Linked DNA regions of Homo sapiens: all the other regions are linked to region 3. Evidence: fine-mapped expression QTL. A gene starts in region 3. Each other region holds a variant in brackets. All regions are shown on one strand. Distances are from middle to middle. Region 1 overlaps LOC101929692 (a long non-coding RNA gene). Region 2 overlaps TBP (TATA-box binding protein). Region 3 holds the start of PDCD2 (programmed cell death 2).

What was found.
Region 1: its variant is fine-mapped to the expression of PDCD2 in whole blood (INTERVAL, PIP 0.94).
Region 2: its variant is fine-mapped to the expression of PDCD2 in fibroblasts (GTEx, PIP above 0.99).

Annotation. Positions count from the first base shown.
Region 1 is chr6:170,634,453-170,639,682 of GRCh38, reverse strand. All of the region lies in intron 2 of LOC101929692 (a long non-coding RNA gene), which reads right to left. It also overlaps the pseudogene OR4F7P. Among named protein-coding and RNA genes, the nearest start is that of PDCD2, 52 kb to the right of the region's middle. The variant T/C (reference allele first, on the strand shown) is at 2,879.
Region 2 is chr6:170,554,932-170,560,149 of GRCh38, reverse strand. TBP (TATA-box binding protein) reads right to left here. Exons shown (of 8, transcript NM_003194.5): 2 at 3,067-3,268. The coding sequence starts at 3,120. Among named protein-coding and RNA genes, the nearest start is that of TBP, 3.2 kb to the right of the region's middle. The variant G/A (reference allele first, on the strand shown) is at 2,253.
Region 3 is chr6:170,582,077-170,587,306 of GRCh38, reverse strand. PDCD2 (programmed cell death 2) reads left to right here and starts at 2,670. Exons shown (of 6, transcript NM_002598.4): 1 at 2,670-3,008; 2 at 3,560-3,802; 3 at 4,119-4,250. The coding sequence starts at 2,726. RefSeq lists a silencer at 2,701-2,940.

The DNA of each region.
Region 1 (5,230 bases), 52 kb before region 3:
AGGAGCTGGATCTCCCATGAATGAGTGAGTCCCAGAAACAAAAACTCAGATACCACTGAGTGATTCTCTCCATCCATTGGTCCAGCCAACTGGGCTGTGGCTAAAATTATGAGAACTAAGAAAATGGGGAGGAAATTGTGATTATGAAGATAATAATATGTACTAAAATCAATATTGCAATGTCACTATGAATAAATAGTATACAGTTATTCTGTTCCTCACATATTAAAAACAAAAAATCAACATAATATTATCACAACATGTGAGCTGCAACCTGATTTAAACCCATCATCAATACTTTCAGTGTAATGTCTGATCTAAAATTAACAGATTAGGTAAGAACAAGATTCCTGACTATCCATGAAATTCATCAGGTGTTTAAATGACCTGCGATATTAACTATTCCTCATTTCCAACATATTCCATTTGTACTTATACATATTCTTATAATTTCCTTCCCTTCCCAGTTTGTAGCCACAATTCTCTGACAGAAAGTAGACATAAGAGGAAAACATGATTAACAGATGGATTATCACCTGCAGTAAGAGGTGCCTGGGACGGACTTAGTTGAGGTAGGCTGTGGATTGAGACAGAATATAGAGACTGGGGTATGTGAAATCGGAAAGCCCACAACTGTAGCAGAACAGAGTAAGTGGACTTTCACAAGAAATAGAATCACCACCATTATCTACCACATTTTCTCATGCTCACTGCTATTTAAGTGCCTCAGTTTCTATACAATCTTTCACAATTACGAAGCCCTAAATGGCTTCCCATCCTGCAGTGATTTCATAAGGAGCCTATGCCACCTGTCATGTAAGGCTTTTTCCATGCCTAATAAATATGTTTTGGAGGGATTTCACCAGAGTTTTTGCTAAGATGCATAAAATGGCCACAGAGGTTGTGAGAAATCTCTGCAGTTTCTCTTTGTCTATACACATGAAAGTATTGAAGACCAGCACTTGGATTAGTTAAGATAATGTTTTAATTCATCGCTGTCTCCTCCTCCCCTTGGTACCAGCTTTTATGTTCATTGCATTCCCCATCCTTTTAAGTACTCAGTACCTCCTGCATGGTAACCTATTCTGATATTTGATATTATCATGCTTAATTTGACTGAATCCATTTGGATATTTTATCTTTAAGAAATTTGTAGTTTTATACTTTTAATTTATGATAAAATTAGATTAATATCAAACATTAACAAGTGACTTTTAGGAAGGTATATGAGCTTTCTTATTGACTTCAAACTATAAAGTACAAACTGTGACACTAGAAATTTAGTCCTTTAACACATGTTGTATTTATATGTGAAGTGGAGGGTGAGCAGAAAACAGTGTTATATTTCTCTGTGTCCAGATGGATACTCACCTCAATGATTTTCCTATAGTAGAAAGTAGTTCCTGAAAACACTTAATAGAGATTATTTTAGAAGTTGCTGAGGTACAAATAAAACTGCTATGCTGACATCATACTTTTTTGCACCAACAACTCCAGTTCTTCTGACACAAAGGACCATCTTCCTAGTGCCATAATTTATCTTAGACCCCAAAACTCACAGAGGCACACATCATATCTCTAATACTTGCTCACCACCACTGGCATGAGTCTCTCTCTATCCTCTTCTACGTGAAGTGATTATACTGTCACCTCTGGAGCTAACTGTCCACAGTCTCAAGATGCACACTTTTTACAACCAGAAGCCTATGGACTGGGTGAGGGAGCAGAAACAGCCACAGGTACTGCCCATCAGGGTAATGTAAGTCAGCATGCAAACAACTGATCAGATGAACATGAATAGCAAGGTGCTGAGGCACTGGGAAGAGGGACCGGAAAACTCTATAATTGTTGAAAAAGACTCAAGCCCTTGGGAAGGGAAATGCCTACGAAATTATATAAAGACCATTTTATCCAAGTTGGTCATCATTCAGATGAAAACCATGAGGCCCAGAAAAGTAAACTGAGTTTCCAGAATTCACACAATTGATAGAATAGGAACCAGAATTCAGGCCTCTTGCTTCCTATTCCAGAAAGACAAATTGCAATAATAATCAAATAATATGAGCAATCATCCAGTAAAAATAATCTAGTAAAAACAGCAAAACTCAAAAGAGTGATTTTTCCTGGTTAAGACCAAAACTAACCATAGATTGCTATACATAGTATCTATTATAAATACTGAATTATATAGCAGCCTGACAATAAATACATAAAATGTGTACACAAAGATTATTGAACCTGTACAATACAGTAGTAAATAGTAGCTTTATATTTGCAAAGTGACTGATCATTACTATCAGAATTTGTACCCATTCTTCATATTTTGTTGGTCATATAACCAGTTACTACAACTGCAAAAACAACCTAAGGTCATGTTTCTGTGAAGTCCATCCTTTTGGTCTTTAAATTTTATTATCCTCAAAGGTCAATTATGATCTCAATCTTTTCTTGTAATTTTACTGACAATTCTCCTTCACACTGATTTGTTCTTTCTCTAATTCCTGTAAATAGAAAGAACCAAAAAAAGTTGAAAAAACATGTATTGTACATATAACAAACAATCATATGTGGTATACAATATATATCAAATGAGTATTAAGATAAACATTCAAAGAGTTTTAAAGAAAAAAGTGTTATAGATATTGGAGGGCAGAAGAGACGATTGCCATTAAGAACAGGTGGAGGAGGTTATGCCAAGGACATTGACCTGACCCTTTAGGAATTAGTGAAAATTGAATAGGAGAAGAATGAGGTATACAATGTGTGAAAAATACCTAAATTGATATAACAGGAGGAGACCTTTTCATATCAATTATCATTACTTCTGTGTATATAACCATATTAGATACCCACAAATGAATAGAAAGTGGATAGTTCT[T/C]GATTGACAAGTAAGACTAATAATCCCAGATCATAGTAAGGTCTTAACTTCAAGTCAATAATCTTTATTACTTATGGTTCATTCCTCTCCCTCATGTTTTCCAATAATTTTAAAATGCATAATTAAAACAATTCTCATTTAAAAACATAGTAGCCATGACTAATGATCTTCCAGTGGGAAGGTACTAAGACTTTACAACATGTTTCTTGCTGGGGATAAGACAGCCTACAGCCAGCATTCAACTCATTTTTCTAAAGTCTATGGATCAATTTGAAATACAGAAAAAGTAGAACAGAGATAAAGTTAAAACAAGATTAAAAATATGGGAAGAATGGGAGAAAGGGGAGATTAGAAGATATGAACAATGATTTAAAAATAAAAGAGCCTCAAAGGAGAAGAGAAACTGCTAAGCAAGACTAAGGTAGGATGAAATACAGTAGTCTCTGTTTCTGAGAACACAGGTTAAAAAGAACATACATAAAATAAATTTATCACCTTTAATACACTCATTCAAGGATGCTACTGAGTTTGACTTTGGGAATTTCTCACCTTTAACACACTCATCTGGGGATGCTACGGACTTTGACATTGGGTTGCATTTAAAGGGGGAGAGAAAGGGCAGTTGCTTCTATTATCTGCCCTTTTGGACTCACAGAGTTTCTTTGAAAAGCACAGATGATAATAAATGGAAATATTGCCTTTTATACTATACAATAATATACACATGCAATTCACTGGAAAAAGTATACTCGTTACTATGATTTGAGGATACTACCATATACTAATCAAGAGAAACACATGTACAGAACAAAGAAGCCACATGAAATTTTTACTAGTGTGTGTTTTCCTTGTGTTCTACCACCCCAGGAGCAGCTTCTGCTACTGAAGATCACAGTAGAGTTATTTCCAAAAGTTGTGGGTCTGCAGGGTGGACTTATCACATAGCTGTTTGCCAAAATTCAAAAGTCCAGAAACCATTTCCAAATTTTCACCTCTTTTATCTTCAAATCCTAAAACTATGAAAATTCACAAACTTAGCTCCATATATTATGGTAGAAAGGTTAATAATTTGGACTTTGAGGTTGACCAGGCCTGATTTTTGAATAAATTCACAAACTTACCTCCATACATTATGGTAGAAAGGTCAATAATCTGGACTTTGAGGTCGACCAGGCCTGATTTTTGGATCCAGGCTGCAACACTCACTTGCTGTGTTAATGTAACAAAGTTCCTAGACCATGCTGAGCTTCAGTTTACTAGTTATTGAATTAGGGATATAGCGTTCGAAGGAAGAAGTTCTAGTATTTGATTGCACAGCAGAGAAATTATAGTTATTGAACTGGGGATATGTAGATAGACATAATAAATTTTAGTATTCAATTATACAATGGAGAAATCATAGGGAACAATAATTTATTATATATTCTAAAATAGCTAGCAGAGAAAAATTATAATGTTCCCAACACAAAGAAAAGATAAATATTCGAGGTGATGAATATCCAAATTACTCTGATTTGATCATTACACATTGTATACATGTATCAAAAATATCACATGTACCCCAAAACATGTACAACTATGATACATCAATAAAAAACAACAAAAAAACCAAAAGAATAGAAATCAAAAATAAATACATAAATACATAAAATAGGGATAATAATACCTCCCTTGTTTGCTTGCTCCCTTGCTCCATTTGTAAGAAATAAGTGATATAATATAGGTAAAAATACTTAACCTCATACCTACCACATAGTATAGCACAATAAACGTTATTTATTATAATCTGAGGCCTACCTACATAAGTGACTTTCAAGTATAGAAAATTATTTCTCAAATTTTAAATACTCCCTGATTCTCAGGTATGGTAATTAGACCTGGCTTTAGGTAAAGCTCTCATGTCTACACTTGGATTTAATCACTTAAGTATATTTCCCAGCGCCCCCCCCAAAAAAAATTGCTCCTAGGTGGACACACTAATCAAAGACTTCCTGAGAAATGCAGGAAGAAGTTTTGTCCTCTGACCACGCTACGCCCTTTCCTTGATGGTAAGCCCCATAATCTAAAGCCATAAGTTTCAATTCCTCACATAAAAAGAAAAAAAATGTCTTTTATGACCACTTCAGATAACACTGGATATTTCCCTTGTCATTAGGAATGAGAAATGGGAGGAAGGTAAACTTGTAGACAGGAGAATTGGTAGATGCTTGAAAGGATTTCTGAAAACTGTGCCTATCCAGGTGTACAAATGTGTTGACCAGCCAAGGCAAAGCAGTCAAACCATACAATACCTTATCCTCAGGAAAATGGACTTTTCTCCCAAATTGCCTTTTTCATGAAAAATATAAAATT
Region 2 (5,218 bases), 27 kb after region 3:
TATTATTTAAGCAGGCATGAAAACAATATTAATCTCCTTGTTCTTCTCCATCAGAGCTTGTGGACAACTAGTTACACTGTCAGTGAGTAATATTTTGAAATTAAACTTTTTTTCTGAGCAGATCTCAAAGAGCTTAAAATATCCAGTAAATCATGCTGTAAACAGACGTGCTCTCATCAGGTTTTGTTGTTCTGTTTACTGAGGACAGGCAGAGTAGATTTAGCGTAATTCTTAAGGCTCTATGGTTTTAGAGCAGAACATGAGCATTGGCTTCAATTTAAACTCACCAGCTCTATTAGCCCCTAACTAGTCAGCCAGTCCTCTGAAGCTTTGAGGCTAGGCACTGATTTCTCCTCTCTAGCTATAAAAGTCCTAGATAGCATCTTCTTCCAGTAGAAGGCTGTTTCATCTACATTAAAAATCTATTATTTAGTATAGTCACCTTCATCAATTATCTCAGCTAGATCTTCCAGATAACTTGCTGCTTCATGTTGCATTTTTATGTTGTGGAGAAGGCCTCTCTCCTTAAAGCTCTGAATAAACCTCTGCTAGTTTCAAAACTTTCTTCTACAGCTTCCTCTCCGCTCTCAGCCTTTACAGAATTGAAGAGAGTTAAGGCCTTGCTCTGTATTACACTTTGGCTTAAGGGGATGTGTGGGTGGTATGATCTTCTATCCAGACCATTCAAACTTTCTCCATATAAGCAATAAGGCTGTTTTGCTTTCTTATCACTTGTGGGTTTACTGGAGTAGCACTTCTAATTTCCTTTAAGAACTTTTCCCTTGCATTCACAACTTGGCTAACTATTTGGTGCAAGAGGCCTAGCTTTTAGCCTGTCTCAGCTTTCAACATGCCTTCTTCACTAAGTATAATCATTTATAGCTTTTGGTTTCAAATGAGAGATGTGCAGCTCTTCCCTTCATCTGAACACTTAATTAAAAGTCACTGTAAGGTTATTAATTAGCCTAATTTCCATATTGTTGTGTCTCAAGGAATAGGGAAGACCAAGCAGAGGGAGAGAGATGGGGGAATGGTTGGTCACGCTGCAGACATTTATCAATTAAGTTCCTGTATTATACAGGTGCAGTTTATGGCATTCAATAATAATTACAATAGTAACATCAAAGATCACTGATCACAATAACAGATAATAATGAAAAGGTTTGACTAGGCACAGTGGCTCATGCCTGTAATCCCAACACTTTGGGAGGCCAAGGCGGATGGATCACTTGCAGCCAGTAGTTTGACACCAGCATGGTGAAACTCCGTCTCCACTAAAAATACAAAATTTAGCTGGGTGTGGTGGCGCATGCCTGTAATCCCAGCTACTTGGGAGGCTGAGGCAGGAGAATCGCTTGAACACGGGAGATGGAGTTTGCAGTGAGCCAAGACTGCACCACTGCACTCCAGCCTGGGCAACAGAGTGACTGAAAAAAAAAATTAAAAAAAAAATACAAAAAAAAAGAAAAAAAAAAGTTTGATAACAATAACGGATAATAATGAAAAAGTTTGAAATCCTGCAAAAATTACCAAAATCTAACCCCAAGACATGAAGTGAGTACACACTTTTGGAAAAATAATGCCAACAGACTTGCTGGGTACAGGTTTACCACAACCTTCAATTTGTCAAACATGCAGTAAAGTGAAGTGCAGTAAAGTGAGGTGGGCCTGTGTATGAGTGGCTGACAAGCACTTGCCAAGGTGCTCAGAAACATTAGTAATCAGGCAAATAAAAATCAAAACCACAATAAGATACTACTAAGCAATCACTAGAGTGAAAGTAAAAAGACTGACAGCAGAAAGTGTTGGTGAGGATGTGGAGCAACTTAAATCTCTTATGCTGCAAAACAATACAGCCACTTCAAAAAACAGTTTGGCAGTTTCTTATAAAGTTATACATATACCAATATAGGACCTAGCAATCCTACTCCTAAGTATTTACCCATGAGAAGTAAAAACAGTGCATTCAAAGTCTACACAAATGTTTACAGTGCTTTTATTCGCAATAGCTCCAAACTGGAAAGACCCCAAATGTGAGCAACTGGAGAATGGATGAACTGTGGAACATCCAAACAATGGAGTGATACTTAGCTATACAATGGATTAACTACTGATATACAAACAGTACACTGGGCTAAGAAGTCAGACATACACAAAAAAGCATACACTCTGATTCCATCTATATGAAATTCTAGAATAGACAAAACTAATCTTCAGCATTGAAAAGCAGATGCAGTAGTTACCTGGGGCCA[G/A]CAGAGTGACTATAAAGGGGAAGAAGGGACTTTTTAAGGTAACTGAAATGTTCTGTAATTTATACATTATATATAATTATCAAAACAGACACTTAAAATGAGTTTTTTTGTATGTATATTTCAACAAAAGTTATTGATTTTTTTTTTTTTTTTTTTTTTTTTGAGACAGAGTCTCGCTCTGTCTCCCAGGCTGGAGTGCAGTGGCACGACCTCTGCTCACTGCAACCTCCACCTCCCGGGTTCAAGCAATTCTCCTTGCCTCAGCCTCCCGAGTAGCTGGGATTACAGGCACCCGCCACAACACCTGGCTAATTTTTGTATATTTTGTAGAGATGAGGTTTCACCACGTTGGCCAGGCTGGTCTCGAACTCCTGACCTCAGGTGATCCGCCCACCTTGGCCTCCCAAAGTGCTGGGATTACAGGCGTGAGCCACTGCACCCAGGCTGAAAAATTTTTAAAGTAGATGGGTGGTTGAGAGCTTGAAATGTAAAAGGGGAAAAATAAAACTAGAAAATAATTTGGTGAGGGTGATTTTCAAAATCAAAGACCCTATATAGTCATTTGGAACATTCTCATAAGTGTTTATCAAAAGATTAGGTGTTTCATAAATATATAACTTAGCTTCCAGACTTCCCAAATAAACACCATTGTGCCTATTCAAAGCCTAATAGAACTTCTCAACAAAATAAGGCTTAAAAAACATATTAAACCATTTTCAAAAACAGATCATTAAATGCCCTTCCTTGCCTTTTGATACCATCTCTTGCAGTTCAGATTTCCGCCCTCCCTATTCTCTCCCTCCTGCTATATTACCTGAGGGGAGGCCAAGCCCTGAGCGTAAGGTGGCAGGCTGTTGTTCTGATCCATGATGTTCACTTTCTTCTTGGCAAACCAGAAACCCTTGCGCTGGAACTCGTCTCACTATTCAATTTTTTCCTAGAGCATCTCCAGCACACTCTTCTCAGCAACTTCCTCAATTCCTTGGGTTATCTTCACACGCCAAGAAACAGTGATGCTGCTTTGGAAAAAAGTCTAAAGTTTAATTTAAGGATCCAGGTAACCTGTACAGTCCTATAAGCCAGTTCTATGGCTATACAAAACACAAACATGAAAACCAATGAAGCTATTTTGGAATACATTTGTTTTTACCTTATAATCCTAAAGTTTTATTCCTTCCATGTTTCCGGCGATTGCATGTAAAATCGCCAACAAAACAAAAATCATTTTGTTACATGTTTAAATAATCGGAAAATGCTCAAAATCGAGCTGTCATAACCAGCATTAAAAACTTTTGAGGAAAAACACCTAGAGAAAAATAATTCCTAAGCAAAATGTAATATCAGAGCAGAATATTCACTAAGCACTGTATACACAGCACTGTTAGGCAAAGTTTAGATCTTTAAATATTCCAATTTTACATCCTCTACAATGTCTTGGGCAAAAAATTAAGTAAATATCAAATTCAATCCAATATACTTCAGAGTGATCATTTATCAAGCTCCTACTGTAATGAAACTGTTAAAAAAAAAAAAGCCGCACAAAGATAAAGCCCTGAATTTTTATAAATGTAATAACCTTACCTCTTTAGAACACATTAATGCAAACTGTGCCTGTTATCTGACTTTTCTTAAATCATCATCGCTTTACTCACTACACATCTGAAATGAGTTTATAACAACATATTCTCACATAGAACTTAGAGGTCTCAAAGTTACAAATTATATGTCCAAAGATCCTTCAGGCATATGCACTTCAAGCATGTGCTGGTACAGAACAGACACTCAGATATTTGCTGAATGTATGAAAGACTCTGACGATCACTTTGAAAGGGCAAAGGCCCCCAAAGACTATCTATCCTACATACTCATCACTGAAAAACAGACCAAAAAAGAAAGCAAGCTCTGCTTCTGGAAATAAATATATCAGAGATATTTTTTAAAATATACTTTTTTTTTGACAGTTATCCTATAATAACAATAACAGAAGTCCTGCAGATGAGGATATAAAGATAGGAGGATATAGTCCTTGGCATCAAAGTGTTCAATATGAAGGGTATGCAAATAACTACTGTAAAACATAGTATTATAACAGCAGGTATGGTCTAAGCTAAGTTCCTTGAATGCAGAAACCAGCCTACATGTCTTTGTGATCTCTGCATCTAGCACTATGCCTGGAATACAGTATGTGATCATGAATGAGCCCATATACACCCCTGGAAGAGAAGACAATATAGACTAACAGCCAATCACTGTGAAGAGAGCGCAGTGTTTTCACAAAGCAGGGACCATCTAACTTGGGTCTCACAAGGTGAGTAGGAATTTACACATCAGGGCTTCAGACAAAAGAGAAATCAAGCAGAAAGAGACAGATTGAAAAAGCATGCAGTATGCAGGCAACAAGCTTAGTATGACTGTATAGAAGGTCACTGCAGCAGATGAGACAGCACATATTGGTGGGCTCATACTATCAGGAGTTTTCAATGTTATTGCATAGGCAATAATAACAGTTATGGAATTTCGGAAGTGCAGTATGAACAGATCTAATTTGGCAAGACTAGATGAATTTGAGAGGAGTAAAACTGGAGGACGGAAGTTTCGTTTCAGGAATCTAAGGTTGAGGCAAGAGATAATGACGGCAGGATTTAAAGCCATTATAAGTATGATTAGAGATTTATCCAGGACCTTCGGTGGCTTCAGGCCACTTTTTGCAAGTAAGTCTACAGAAGAAACCGCACAGTGATTACTGCACTAATTTATCCTCAGAAAAGAGTTGTTTGCTGGGTATCTTCATCTCCTGGAAATTGAAACATCAAATCCGATATTTTTTGGAGGCAATCAAATTAATTCTGCATAGCCTTCTAGTGTCTGTATAACTAAATGAAGCACAGTCTTTTCACAGAAAAGTCTACCTAGAGATTTGGAAAACCATGATGGCCTGAACCGAGAGACGGGAGACCCTGCAAATA
Region 3 (5,230 bases):
GTATATAGGACTAAGGATTCTAGGCTGGGTACAGTAATTCACACCTATAATCCCAGCACTTTGGGAGGCCAAGGTGGGAGGATTGCTTAAGCCCAGGAGTTTGAGGCCAACCGGGGCAACATATGAGACCTCGTCTCAAAGAAAAAAAAAATATGTAGAAAACTAGAGAGGATAAATTAAAATTCCAATAAGAAAAATATATTAACCTGGAAACCTACAGGAAATGGGTGATTGCCTAATAAAAATACACATGAACAAAAGGAATCCTAAAATAAGAAACATACAAATAGGCCAGTTAGTATAGAAAAGCTTGGAATGATGCTTAGACATCTCTCACTGGAAAAGACCCCAGGGACATACAGATTCAGAGTTAAGTTTTAACTGAACTTGGTTAAATTTGTTGACCTTCAGCAAATCCTGATTTTATTTAAAATGGTCAAGGCCTAGTTGAGGGAAGGGGAAAGAAGTGATTTTCTTCAATTACTTTTACGGTATAATTTCTGTGAAAGGAAAATAAAACTCAGGACCACAAAATCACTAAACCAAAGGGTAAAGTCAAGCTGGAAACTATGTCAGGCAAACCTGCCTCCCATTCTATTCCTAAATAAGATAGCTGCCAAGATAAGAGGCTACGTACCTCCCTTAAAATTTGCCCACAAGGAAATTCCTTGTGGATAAAGGACAGACAGAACTCAAAGTTATCCCTTTAAGGTGCGCCTGAGACAAATGCATATCTAATTGCTTCCCCTCCCCTATTGTTTACGTAAAAATGATAATTCACTGAGCCAGACTAAATTGTGTATTCAGTGGAAGGCTGATCAAGGACTCAAAAAAATGCGATCTTTTGCCTCTTATCTACTCATGACCTGGAAGCCCTCACCTCAAGTCCCGCTTTACCTGACTAAAGTACATCTTACACATACTGATTGATGTCTCATGTCTCCCTAACATGTATAAAAGCAAGCTGTACCCTGACCACCAAGGGCACATGGTCATCAGGGCCTTCTGAGGCTGTGTCACGGGTGCAACCTTAATCTTGGTGAAATAAACTTTCTAAATTGATGGATGCCGGATGTGGTGGCTCATGCCTGTAATCCCAGCACTTTGGGAAGCTGAGACGGACAGATCAACTGAGGTCAGGAATTCGAGACAAGCCTGGCCAACATGGTGAAACTCTGTCTCTACCAAAGATACGAAAATTAGCTGGTTGTATTGGCACACACCTATAATTCCAGCTGCTCAGGAGGCTGAGGCAAGAGGATCGCTTGCCTGGGAGGCGAAGGTTGCAGTGAGCCGAGATCATGCCACTGCACTCCTCCAGCCTGGGTGACAGAGCAAGATGCCATCTCAAAAAAGAAAAAAAAAAATTGATGGAGAGTTAACTTTTGGTTTACAATGTAAATGTTTATTTAAAAACAGACATTATTTTATGTACCATTACAAATATACTGCTACCCAGCTGCTCGGGAGGCTGAGGCAGGAGAATGCTTGAACTCGGGAGGCGGAGGTTGCAGTGAGCCGAGATCGCACCATTGCTCTCCAGCCTGGGCGACAGAGCGAGACTCCATCTCAAATAAAACAAAAACAAACAAATATACTGCCAACTAAACTGTGATTTTGTCAAAAATAAATGTTGTTGATGACTTTACTTCCATTAAAGCCACTGTAGTAGCCAAGGGAAAGCTTCCTTTTTGTCCTCTGAAGGTTCACTGAAAAGTCAACTGACAAAAGGCACATTAATTGGAGAAAGGGCATACAAATTTATTAACATGCACATGGGGGAGAACCAGAGTGATTTTGCTGAAGCCCCAAATGGGGTTCAGAAACTTATATACCATCTTGAGGTTACAGAATGGGGGTTTGGATTGTGGCATAACAGGTTATGCGGGTGGAGACCTGGCTGACAACCACGGTCTTGTTATGTAAATGAAACCTCCTAAGTAGAACTCCTTAAAGAGAACAGGTGGTACATGTTTCTTTCAGACCTTTGCAAACCAACAGTAAAATTCTAAACCCTCCAACCGACTGATGGACCCTCTGCTTGCCCAAGGGCATTCTGAAGTTAACCTGAAAAACTAGTTCAGGCAATGATGGGAAGTGGGGGTTGGCCATGCCTCATTATACACTCCTCCCTTGGAATTCAGGTACAGCAAGCCAGCACTAACATTAAAACAGAGACCTTAAGACTGACAGAAAAGACTCTTCTGCAGAGGCTTCTTCATTACTCTCAGGCACACAGGATTCTTGGTTTCCGCTGTAGGGTCCTCACTTTACCTGTTCAACCTTCATTTGTCTTTCACTGCCTACTCTTGGTTAGCACTCGGCCAGCGCACAGGTTTCCCACACCCTGAGGTGGACACCAGCAGGGAAGGTTTGCGGGAGGGCTCTGCCTCCCTGGCGGCCACCCGCAGGCCCACAGCAAGACATGTGCAGAGGTGAGCGGAGCGCCGTCACCAGCTGCCACTCTCCCAAAGACCAGAACCATCCCAGAGCACCCGGAGGCACCAGGAAAGCGGCTCGGAGGCAGAGGCGCCAGGGGCGGGGCTGATGCCGAGAGGTTTCCTCTGCCCCGTTCCCTCGCATTGGTCCTGCAACCGCTCCCGTCAGACGCGTTTCCGCCTCCTGTCCTCCGGAAAGGTGCCCGCCTCTTGCCTTCCGGCCCGGCGCCCGATTTCCGCCTTCCGACCCAGCTGTGGGCTGCGCCCCACGCCAGCCCGCGCCCCGCATGGCTGCCGCCGGGGCCAGGCCTGTGGAGCTGGGCTTCGCCGAGTCGGCGCCGGCGTGGCGACTGCGCAGCGAGCAGTTCCCCAGCAAGGTGGGCGGGCGGCCGGCATGGCTGGGCGCGGCCGGGCTGCCGGGGCCCCAGGCCCTGGCCTGCGAGCTGTGCGGCCGCCCGCTCTCCTTCCTGCTGCAGGTGTATGCGCCGCTGCCTGGCCGCCCGGACGCCTTCCACCGCTGCATCTTCCTCTTCTGCTGCCGCGAGCAGCCGTGCTGTGCCGGCCTGCGAGGTGAGCCGCCAAACGGGGTCGGGACGGGGCCATGCCTCCGACGCGTGCGCGGCGTTAATTCCGGGAGCGACCAGGGGGACGGCGGCAAGCACCGCTGCCGCCCCAGCCTCAGAGCTCCCTCTCCGCGCTGCCCCAGGAGCACCTTCTCCCGGGCCCTTCCAGGATGTGCTCATTTTTGCTACATAAGCTTCTAACTGTGCCCACGCGCATTGGTAACCCCCAGCTTTTAATCAGTGGGTACCAGGTATGGTGTTAATTCAGATAATAGAAATTGTCTTGGAAAGATGGATCCCAGTAGCTTTTTCGTATTTTTGGCAGTCGTTCTTAACGATCAGTCTTATTAATTTGATTAACTCAAACCACCTCTAGGAGGCAACTCAGTTGCGTGTACCGGACGAAATCTAGTTTCTGGATTTTAAAAGCTTATTCCTGAAAGCAAAAACTTTCATTTCTTTTTTGTTGTTGTTATTTTCAGTTTTACGTGCAGAGGATAAAATATGTGAATTGCTGTTTTGTTTGAAGATAAAACTTTTCTCTGTATTCTTTTTTAGTTTTTAGGAATCAACTACCCAGGAAAAACGATTTTTACTCATATGAGCCACCTTCTGAGAATCCTCCCCCAGAAACAGGAGAATCAGTGTGTCTCCAGCTTAAGTCTGGTGCTCATCTCTGCAGGGTTTGTGGCTGTTTAGGCCCCAAAACGTGCTCCAGATGCCACAAAGCATATTACTGCAGCAAGGAGCATCAGACCCTAGACTGGAGATTGGGACATAAGCAGGCTTGTGCACAACCAGGTGGGTAATCTTTTTTTTAAGTCTCAGTTCAGTTTCATCGCCTTTGTCAACCCAGATATTTCCAGGACAACTTTAAAGGTAAAATTAGGAAAGGTATAGTACTTTAAAATTTTTCATGCCTGGAACACCTTTGTAAAAAAAAAAAAAAGGCTGTGAAGTCTGAATCACTGAATAATGTCACCATATAGGCATTTAATTTATGACCCTTTATCTAAAATGCCAGAACTATAGGGAATATAGTACTTTAGAGACAGCAAATTATTAGACTGTCTTCAAAACTAAATGATTACTAATAGTGCTGTCCTTTTTGTTTCAGATCATCTGGACCATATAATTCCAGACCACAACTTCCTTTTTCCAGAATTTGAAATTGTAATAGAAACAGAAGATGAGATTATGCCTGAGGTTGTGGAAAAGGAAGATTACTCAGAGATTATAGGGAGCATGGGTAAGCAGTTTCAGGACTTCATTCATTAAGTGGTTAAACATAATACTTGGAAGAAAGGGCTCCATGTGCCTAGAAGAGAGGTACTGAGAGGAAGACTCACTTTGGAGGCTGTAGCATACAATTTTCAGATATTGCCTCAGGTAAAAATATACTTCCTGGACTTTGTTTTCTGACACATAAGAGGTGTGTTCTGCTCCCTGTAAAGACAAGGGTGGGTATCCAGATGGTCCCATGAGTAGGGCTGCACAAGATGCTGGAGGCTTGGTAAGTTCCTCTGGGTCGCAGATCGGTTTCTCGGGTCGGGATAGTGTGAGTGCCTAGCACAGTGTCGGGCACGCAGAAGGGCCCCTTAAAAGTTTCTCTTTCATCTGGCCAGTTTTAGATACACAATTTTGTCAGTTTACTTACAGTGCATACTCTTGGGTAGTACTTGTGCTGACCAAGTATCTTAGAGGCTTATTTTATTATAGTAGCCAACATTTATCCAGCACTTACCTTATATAAAGGGCTGTTTGTGCATGAGCTCATTAAAATCGTGACAGCAGACCAATGAGTGAGAAACTGCCCCATTTTGAAGGTGAGGAAATTGAGGTTCTGGGTATAACTTTCTTTGGTCACATAATATTAAATTTTACAATTTGAGCCTTGAGCCATACACAAAACCACCACAAAATTAGATTTATAGACTCAAAATGAAAACATCAGCTTACTGGTTTGTAGTTCATACCAGTCATACATTCCAAAACATGTTTTGAGTCTTACTCTGTGCCTGACCTTGTGCTTGATAACAGGGATATAATGGGAAGCAACACTCCAGTGGTCAGATGCTCACAGTCTTATGGAGGAGCCCAAATAATATCTGGGGAAGTTAAAGTCCATATAATGACTGATAAGAGTACAATACAGGTGCCATGGGAACACGTGACATCACTGAAGACTGCCTGGAAGGGGCCGCGCGTGTGTTCATGCCTATACGATAA